3 separate regions of the Homo sapiens genome follow, and all the other regions are linked to region 3. The links come from fine-mapping of genetic effects on gene expression. A gene starts in region 3. Each other region holds a variant in brackets. All regions are shown on one strand. Distances are from middle to middle. Region 1 overlaps ATP8A2 (ATPase phospholipid transporting 8A2). Region 2 overlaps ATP8A2 (ATPase phospholipid transporting 8A2). Region 3 holds the start of ATP8A2 (ATPase phospholipid transporting 8A2).

What was found.
Region 1: its variant is fine-mapped to the expression of ATP8A2 in whole blood (TOPMed, PIP 0.93).
Region 2: its variant is fine-mapped to the expression of ATP8A2 in whole blood (TOPMed, PIP above 0.99).

Annotation. Positions count from the first base shown.
Region 1 is chr13:25,884,184-25,886,939 of GRCh38, forward strand. The region is part of intron 33 of ATP8A2 (ATPase phospholipid transporting 8A2); the gene reads left to right. Among named protein-coding and RNA genes, the nearest start is that of SHISA2, 170 kb to the right of the region's middle. The variant G/A (reference allele first, on the strand shown) is at 1,145.
Region 2 is chr13:26,017,051-26,019,806 of GRCh38, forward strand. The region is part of intron 36 of ATP8A2 (ATPase phospholipid transporting 8A2); the gene reads left to right. Among named protein-coding and RNA genes, the nearest start is that of SHISA2, 34 kb to the right of the region's middle. The variant G/A (reference allele first, on the strand shown) is at 1,703.
Region 3 is chr13:25,370,750-25,373,505 of GRCh38, forward strand. ATP8A2 (ATPase phospholipid transporting 8A2) reads left to right here and starts at 1,225. Exons shown (of 37, transcript NM_016529.6): 1 at 1,225-1,539. The coding sequence starts at 1,464.

The DNA of each region.
Region 1 (2,756 bases), 510 kb after region 3:
GGTCAGTGGCCCTTAGCAAACCAGGACAAGTTGGAGTTACATGGGTCTCTGTTCCCTTCTCCATCACAGCAGCTTTGGGAAGGATTCAACAAGTTTATGTCAGTCCTTGGGGATTGGGGATGATGGCTGCACAGTGTTGGAGGAAGGAAATCATGTCGGGACCTCATTCCCTGCCACTCACCACCCACACGCCCCACTCCCAAGTATTCAAGGGCCAATTTGTTTGTGGATAAAGCAGATCCCCCGCTTCTGCTCCCACTTCTCGCGGGTGCCTTCTAGCTTCCTTTGCTCATTAGCAGGCTCTTAGAAGGCAGGCTGCAGAAGGAGGCAAGAGATCACTCCAAAATCAGAAGTGCTTTGGCTGGCACTTCCCAGCAGCTTCCTTGGGAAGATAGAGGATGTTGTGATCGCCTGGTCTGGGACAGTGATGAGCTTTCTCCCTCCTGATCCTCTGTCAGATGCAGGCAGTCCCCGCTGCTCTGAGCTCTTCAACTGTTACTCTAACCTTGGCCTGAGACTCTCCTAAGCATGCTTTGAAAAGTAAAATTCGTGAGAATGGGGCCCAAACATGAGAGCACCTGGGTGAACAGAGTTTGATTTCATTGCCCCTGCGGCTTCTCCTGCCCCACTCAGGCACTTGCCCTCCTCCCACGAGCCATCCCAGATCCCTGGGGCCCTTCTGCATCACCTCTGACGAGTCCACTCTTGTCCCCTCTCCTGGCCTCTGCCGACTGTTGACTCTGCAGGGAACACAGGAACTCTCTACAGAGATGTAAGGGGCTTGATGCTGTGCCCTTGCCTGCATGGCCTTCCTGTTACTTTGTGGCAGGGCCCACTATCCTGAGCTGGCCTCCATGTCCTGGTCTGCCCAGGGCTCGCTTCCTCTCTCCAGCCTGAGAGTCAGTCTCCTTTCTCCGCTTGCTTTTTTTTTTTTTTTTTTTTTTTTGAGGTGGAGTCTTGCTCTTGTCACCCAGGCTGGAGTGCAGTGGTGCGATCTTAGCTCACTGCAACCTCCGCCTCCTGGGTTCAAGCAATTCTCTTGCCTCAGTACCCCAAGTAGCTGGGACTACAGGTGCCCACCAGCATGCCTGGCTAATTTTTGTATCATTAGTAGAGATGGCGTTTCACCATGTTGGCCAGGCTG[G/A]TCTCGAACTCCTGACCTCAGGTGATCCATCTGCCTCGGCCTCCCAAAGTGCTGGGATTACAGGCATGAGCCACCGCACCAAGCCCGCTTGCTTCTTTTCTCTAATGTCTCTTTTCCTGACCCTGGCCCTCTCTCCTTCTTTTGGGGTGGCTGGCATGCTTCTCACAGAGGCCATCGTAAAGGCTGGGGAGGAGGGCTGGAGCCTGCTGGGGTAATAGTGCCTGTCCTGCCCAGCTCATCTGCAGAGCCCCCGGGGTTGGCGACTGCAGCAGTCTCAGCACATCAGTCCCGAACCAGAGAAATTGCAGTGTCCTGCTGTTTTTCATTATGCTATTTTCTTCCTATTTATTCTATGGTCTTGTTTCTCTTAGAATTAAACAATCAGAAACTGATATGAGGGGAATTCAATCAGAGCAGGGTATTTGTGGAGCCAGGGCATTTCTCCTCTTTGACACAGCCACATGGCTTGTTTTCATGCATTACTCCTTAATAATGTGTTTATTTATCTAGACTCACACGATTCTCTCTTGCCCTGGGTAATCCACTATTAACCGTTAATAACCAGGATCCCTAGTGAAGGAAGGGATTTTTCAAAGAAAAGCAAAGGGAATTGCAGGTTTGAAATTCTAGAGAGAATTTCGGTGGGGGTGAGAATACACCCTCACTGAAGAGAATGTGGGAAAATAACTGAGAGTGCTCTTCAAGAGGCAGATGTTGTACTTCTGCTGATGCTCCACTGTATTCAAGCTGCATTTTGTTTGAAAGAAGCTTTTCCTCCAAGAATATTACAGTAGTTAGTTCTGAAATTGACAAGCAATGTTATATCACGTCTTGGATAAAGTATATATATTTATGTATCTGTAACTAATGAATACTGACATTAAGCTTTCCAAATTACTTAATAGGACACCTGTCCCTCCCAAAAGAAAAGTTGGAATGTCGGGGTGGTGATGGTGGAATAGCGTATTTGTTGCTGGGATGAGGTCATAAAGCTAACTTAACTCTTGTTCTGAAAGAGTCTCAGTGTGGAAACGGTGGCACTTGCCCTGGCTGGGTTTGACTGTGTGAGTTTTGTGTTTTGTAATTAGAAGGGAGGTGTGCCTCTGCTTTATGGACAATGCCTGGCAAATGCTGCCCTCCCTATTTTTGTCGCATCTGCAAGTGTGGTATGCATCTTGTAAACAGGTCACTAATTCCAGGCTAGGGGCTGGAAGGCAGCTATAATCTCGCTCACGTGGTTTCACCCGCTCCATGTGCGCTGGATGCCGACAGCACGAGGGGAAGCCTCTGAGAGCGCGGCTTCGTGGGGCAGAGCATCTCCCAGGCCCACTCCATGGAAATCTCTTCCAAGTGGCAGCCCAGAGCCTCTTCGTGCCATCTGATAGCTGTTCCATAGCGTATAGGAAAACAGCTGAGACTCAGGGCCTTCTCCAGAGGGAGCGCCAGAGATTACTGCCAGGAGAGTGGGAAATGGTGAGAAAAACATGAGGTGGCTTCCACTCTGCAAGCCCTTAGTACTACATAGGCTTTATTTACATGGTATTGCTGGTTGCTCATTGTAGGGTCAAATTTATGAAGAAAGGGGTAATCAGCTCAGGCACATTGACAACAG
Region 2 (2,756 bases), 650 kb after region 3:
AATCTAAGATGAAAACAAGCGAGTGGAGAAAGACATCTTCAGGGTGGAGAGCTCAGTAGTCCTCAGCTTCCCACCGGAAGAGTTTATAAAAGAGTATGTCCCATTCTTTGGGGTGACTGTTCTTTACTCAGAACCACTTCTGTAGGACTGAGGAGCAGCCCCGGGAGTGGTGCAGCAGCTGTGGAGCCAGTGACGACCCTGCCATTGCAGCTGCTGTTCTGCCAGGCCCCCTCAGGATGACTTCAGATGTGGACTAGAAACGTTCCTTGTTAAAGAACTGGAGAATGGAAATTGTCCAAGTTGACCACAGTACATAGCCTTGTTACTGGAGCAGACGAAGCAGTGTTATTTGCTAGATTTTGCTTTGAAACATCCCAAGGAAAGACGTCTCCTCTTGGACTGCAGTAAAAATGCTTCATAAAGGGCAGCTTGTACAGGATTGGGGATGAGAGTGTGTGTGCCACACGGTGCCAGAGGGAGGCAGGAGGCTGGGGCAGCTCCTCCAAAGCTGGGCAACGGAGGTTTCCTTGTCCCTGCTGCTAATCTCTGATTAAGCAACTTGGTGAAAATCCAAAAGCTCTTAGGAGAACAGGAGTGGTGGCATTTGCTCTTCGGTGCTTGAAAGCAGATCATGTGAAAACTCTAAAGCCCTGAGAATCAAAGCACAGCCACCTACCTGGTCAGGAAGTTCAAGTGCACTAGGTGTGGGCCCAAGGCTGGCACAAGCATATCCGCCCCCAAGGGAGCTCCCCTCCAGGCTGATGCTGCCTTCAGGCTCAGACACCCACCTGCTCCTGTACCCAGCTGTCTGAGGGCTCACAATGGTCTGGGAGCTGCTTCACTGTGGCTACCATGTGGTGGGAATTTTTGGTTTGTAGGTTTTGTTTTGCTAGAAATGGAGGTGAGCAAGTAGACAAAAGCCCCCTGTGGAAGATTCCTCTCTGTTCTGTTCTCTTCTGTTCTGTTCACCCTGGCTCAGCTTGTATCACCTTCTCTCCCGCCCACTGTCTCTTCCTCCTGTGGCCTCACTGGTCTGGGCCCTCCTCCCTGCTGCTCAGCCCATGTCCTCAGTCAACTCTCAGGCCACCTCTGCAGACAAGCCCTTGCCTCCCCCGATAACCCCCCTGAGCCTTTGGGATTCTCAGGCAGTGGCCAGAAGGCATGCTCTCTGGAAGAGCCAGGAAGCCAGCCCAGGACCGGGACTCTCAGTTATGGGAACACACAGAGTAAGAAAACAGCCTGAGTGTCTTCTTTTAAAGTCTCCTCCTCTTCTCCATCCCACGAGGACTCTTCTGTCTTGTTACTGTATGTCTTGATACTCTAGAAATTTCCTTTTTAAGCCAGATGCCTCAGGAAATTAACAGGCAGTCCAGGAACTGATTCATGGGCACCCTTTTCGACTTCTTTTCTCCTTTTAAAGAGTATGACAGTGAACTCACAGCTCCCCTGATAAGTTGTACGCATGCATGGATGGAATTCAAGATTGTCAGGTTTTTTTATTGTGTTGTCTTTTGGCCAGAATGTCTAATTGAGCTGTGGGACTTTTCCAGACCCCTGACACAGAAGGGTTAGCCAATGGAGAGCAGGCCTTATAAATGTCTTTCTGTGGGAAGGGCCAGTTGGAAGAAAAGCCCCACTCTGGGCTTGTGAACACTAAAGCTGGTTCTCAGCTCTAGAGTGTGGACCCTGGGTTTGCTTCCCA[G/A]CTCTGCCACTCACGAGGTCTGTGACCTTGGGCAGGTCACAAAAATCTCTGTGCCTCAGTTTTCTCATCTGTGAAGTGGGAGGAGTATAATCCCCTATCTCATAGGGTTTCTGGGAGGATTAAATGAGCTTTATTTTATAGCACAGTGTCTTAGACACATGGCATTTAATGAGTCTTGGCTATTATTTATTTTATTAATAGTATATGAACTGATTGTGTAAGAATAGTCTTTGTATGGCCACAGGTCCAATCAATCACTAAATTCCTTTTGAGTTTATTGTGTAACCTTTTTCTTTACATGGAAACAACCCTACTTTGATTACTTATTACCAGTCCAGATCAGTCTGATTTAAAAACAGGGCTGGGTGTGGTGGCTCAGGCCTGTAATCCCAGCACTTTGGGAGGCCAAGGTGGACAGATTGCTTGAGGTCAGGAGTTTGAGACCAGCCTGGCCAACATGGTGAAACCCCGTCTCTACTAAAAATACAAAAAAAAATAGCTGGGCGTGGTGGTGCATGCCTGTAGCCCTAGCTACTCAAGAGGCTGAAGCAGGAGAATTGCTTGAACCCTGGAGGCAGAAGTTGCAGTGAGCTGGGATCGCGCCACTGCACTCCAGCCTAGGCGGCAGAGCAAGACTCTGTCTCAAATAAATAAACAGGAAGGCTCCAGGTATCACGTGCATTTTGCCAGCTTGCACTATTAGTGTTGTGTGTGTGTTTCCCTGGCATGTTTACAGCTTCATAAATTAGCTGGCTGCCCTACAGCATCAGGCAGACAGGAGTGTTTTTTCTTAATTGGCAGTGGGAAAGTGGAGTCGGGGACCAGTGACCCACTGTGTGTGATTCCCACACTGAGCTCAGCCGCAGCCCCCTAGAAATAGGAAACCTACCCTCAGAGGCTTTCCCTTCCCAGCATCAGCAGCTAGAACCATGGGACCCCAGTTAGCCTGCACACGGCCGCCACGGCCCCTCTATGGCCACAGGTTTCTTCATCTCAAGCCTCCACCTATCCAAGGCTAAGGAGGCCAGATGTCGCACTCACCCGCACGCTGCCA
Region 3 (2,756 bases):
TCGAGACCAGCTTGGCCAACTTAGTGAAACCCCGTCTCTACTAAAAATACAAAAATTAGCTGGGCGTGGTGGTGGGCGCCTGTAATCCCAGCTACTCGGGAGGCTGAGACACAAGAATCACTTGAACCCGGGCGACGGAGGTTGCAGTGGGCCGAGATAGCGCCATTGCACTCCAGCCTGGGCAACAAGAGCAAAACTCTGTCAAAGAAAAAAAAAAAGTAAAAGAAAATAAAATCAGATGCAGAGGCCAGGCAGGAGGAGCTCAGGCCGCACTGCTGTCTTTGCTAGCACAGATTCTTTTTGCTGAACTCTGTACTACTCCTTGTCAGTCCCTAATGTTAATTTAGGTTAAAAGAAATGTAATGCTCGCATCAGTAAAAGCAAGGTCAGACTTTCACCTGAACAGTTTTATTTTTGTTTTGTTCCGTTTTTACTCCGAGGTCAGAATGTCATCAGGCACAATAAAGATAGCTTCTTATCTTCATGGGATTGTGCCCAGAAAGACCAAGCACAGTCTAAACATTACGCGATAAGAAAAAACAAAAAATAGATCAAGTGACCTTGGACAAGTCATCTTACCTCTCGATGGTTTTGTTTTATGAAAGAAGGTGTGTGTGTGTGTGTGTCGATGGGTGTGTGTGTGTGTGTGTCGATGGGTCTGTGTGTGTGTGTGTGTGTGTCGATGGGTGTGTGTGTGTGTGTGTGTGCGTGCGGGGGTTGAGAAGGTTGCTGTTAAGGTTCCCTAGGGCTACCTGCAGCTTTAATATGCGTAGTTAGAATGTCAGGCAGGTTGTGGAGAGTGGGGGGCTGGAGACCCCCGACTTCTCTGAGTGCCAAGCCACACATCAGACACCTTGGAAATAACCCTTCCACGAAGTCCCTACACAGATCCCACCAGGCTGGGCACGGAAGAACAGAAACTGCGAAAAGAAAGGGACTGGATGAGTCCTGGGGAATCACAGCGCCTCCACTTGCACAGGACAAGTGACAGGCAGGTAAATAGGTAGCAGACAGGCAGAGACTCCGAGTCCCCCAGGTGCACCCCTCTCCTGGAAGAGCCCCCGAAAGTACAGGCCCAATCTCCCACCCCACCAAGCCCTCCCCATCGCCTTCCCCGACACCTAAAAGCCCCGGTCCTGCGTAATATTGCGGATCCCTCCCAGCCTCCCGTCCGCTCCTCCTCCCGCGGGGCTCCGCTCAGGGCCGGTCCCCCGCCCCCACGCCGCAGCCCGGGCCAGCGGGGCCCGCCGCGGTGGCGTTCGCGGATGCTGCCGCATTGGCCGCTGCGGCACGGACGGCGCAGCCTCGGGCGCGGCCCGGCACAGGCGCCGGCGGTCCCCGCCAGCTAGCAGCCCGGCGAGGCGCTGGCCCACCCATGGTCCTCGGGCGGCGGCCCCTGCGCCCAGCCCTGCGCGTAGCCTCCGTCTCTCGCCCGGGGCCGCCGAGCCCCCGACACGGGCGAGATGCTGAACGGCGCAGGCCTGGACAAAGCTCTTAAGATGTCCCTGCCGCGGAGGTCGAGGATCCGCTCGTCCGTGGGTGAGCTGGGAGGGGCGCGGCGAGGGAGGGTGGGCCCGGGGCGGGGGCGGCGCGGGGCGCGCCTGCGGTTATGCGACACTGCCCCGCCCGCGCCCCGCTCCCCTCCCTGGGCTCCCTGGGCTCTCTGGGCTGCAGGATCCGCCGACGCGGCGCGCTGGCCGCACGGGGGCTGGGCGTCGCTGCACCTGCGGGGCCAAAAGGCTCCAGGCCGGGGCGAGGTGAGCGGCGGGCGTCAGAGACCCCCGGCTCGTCCCTGTACAGATGTGTGTGTGTGTGTGCGGCCTCCCTGTGCGCGTGCCCGTGCGCCCCTACGCGCGGATGCGGCTCAGGGATGCGACCTAGGCGGCAGTCACCGCGATGGTGGGCACGGTTTGGCGGCGCAGAGAAGATGCAGCCTTCCCTGCCGGCGGCCGGCACCGCTGTGCTGCAGAGCTCAAAAGCAGAGGGGGAAAAAGGCATCCGAAGGGTCCCTCGAGTGATTCTCACCACTTGGAGCCCCGGGTCCTCGCGCGCTCACAGCGGCGACGTACTGGCTCATAACCATCCGTGCATACAACCATCTGGAGACGAACACACACACGCACACGCGCGCGCACACACACACACAGGTACACACACACGTACACACGCACGCGTACACATACCCTGCCTGCAGGCGCCTGGGTGTTGGAACTCGAAACCTAAAGCCAAACACGCATGTACCATACCCGACCACTCACACTGTTAGAGGCCCGCGTTCTATGATTATAGAACACATTTAGAAACTATGATGTCGTGGAGCTGGATGTTATGTGGCTATGACACTTGATAGGGTTACCTAGACCATTAGTTAATGCAGACGTAAAGAGGAGCCCCAAAAATGATTTCTTACCGTTTCAGGACTGCGGCAAGTTTGCAGGTAGATCTTTGACATGAGGAAGGTAGAGGGTGTACAGTTTGGAGCTGGGGTCACTTGTCTTCGTGCTTTTTTATTTGTTTTGAGAAAATAGGCACATAAAAATAAGCGACTTTTGTATTTCTGTAGTTGAGTAACGTGAGAGGGAAGCAAGCTTATCAGGTAATTTAAGCCAATGTTTGTTAAACTTGGGTAAAGTCAGGACACTTTCACATTCATTTTGAGGAGAATCCCAGCCTGAAGGGGTCACGGGGTGCAGGGTCAAGACTAAATAGCAGGGAAGAGCTGTGGCAGAGAGACAGTGGGAGGGCGCAGTCATACA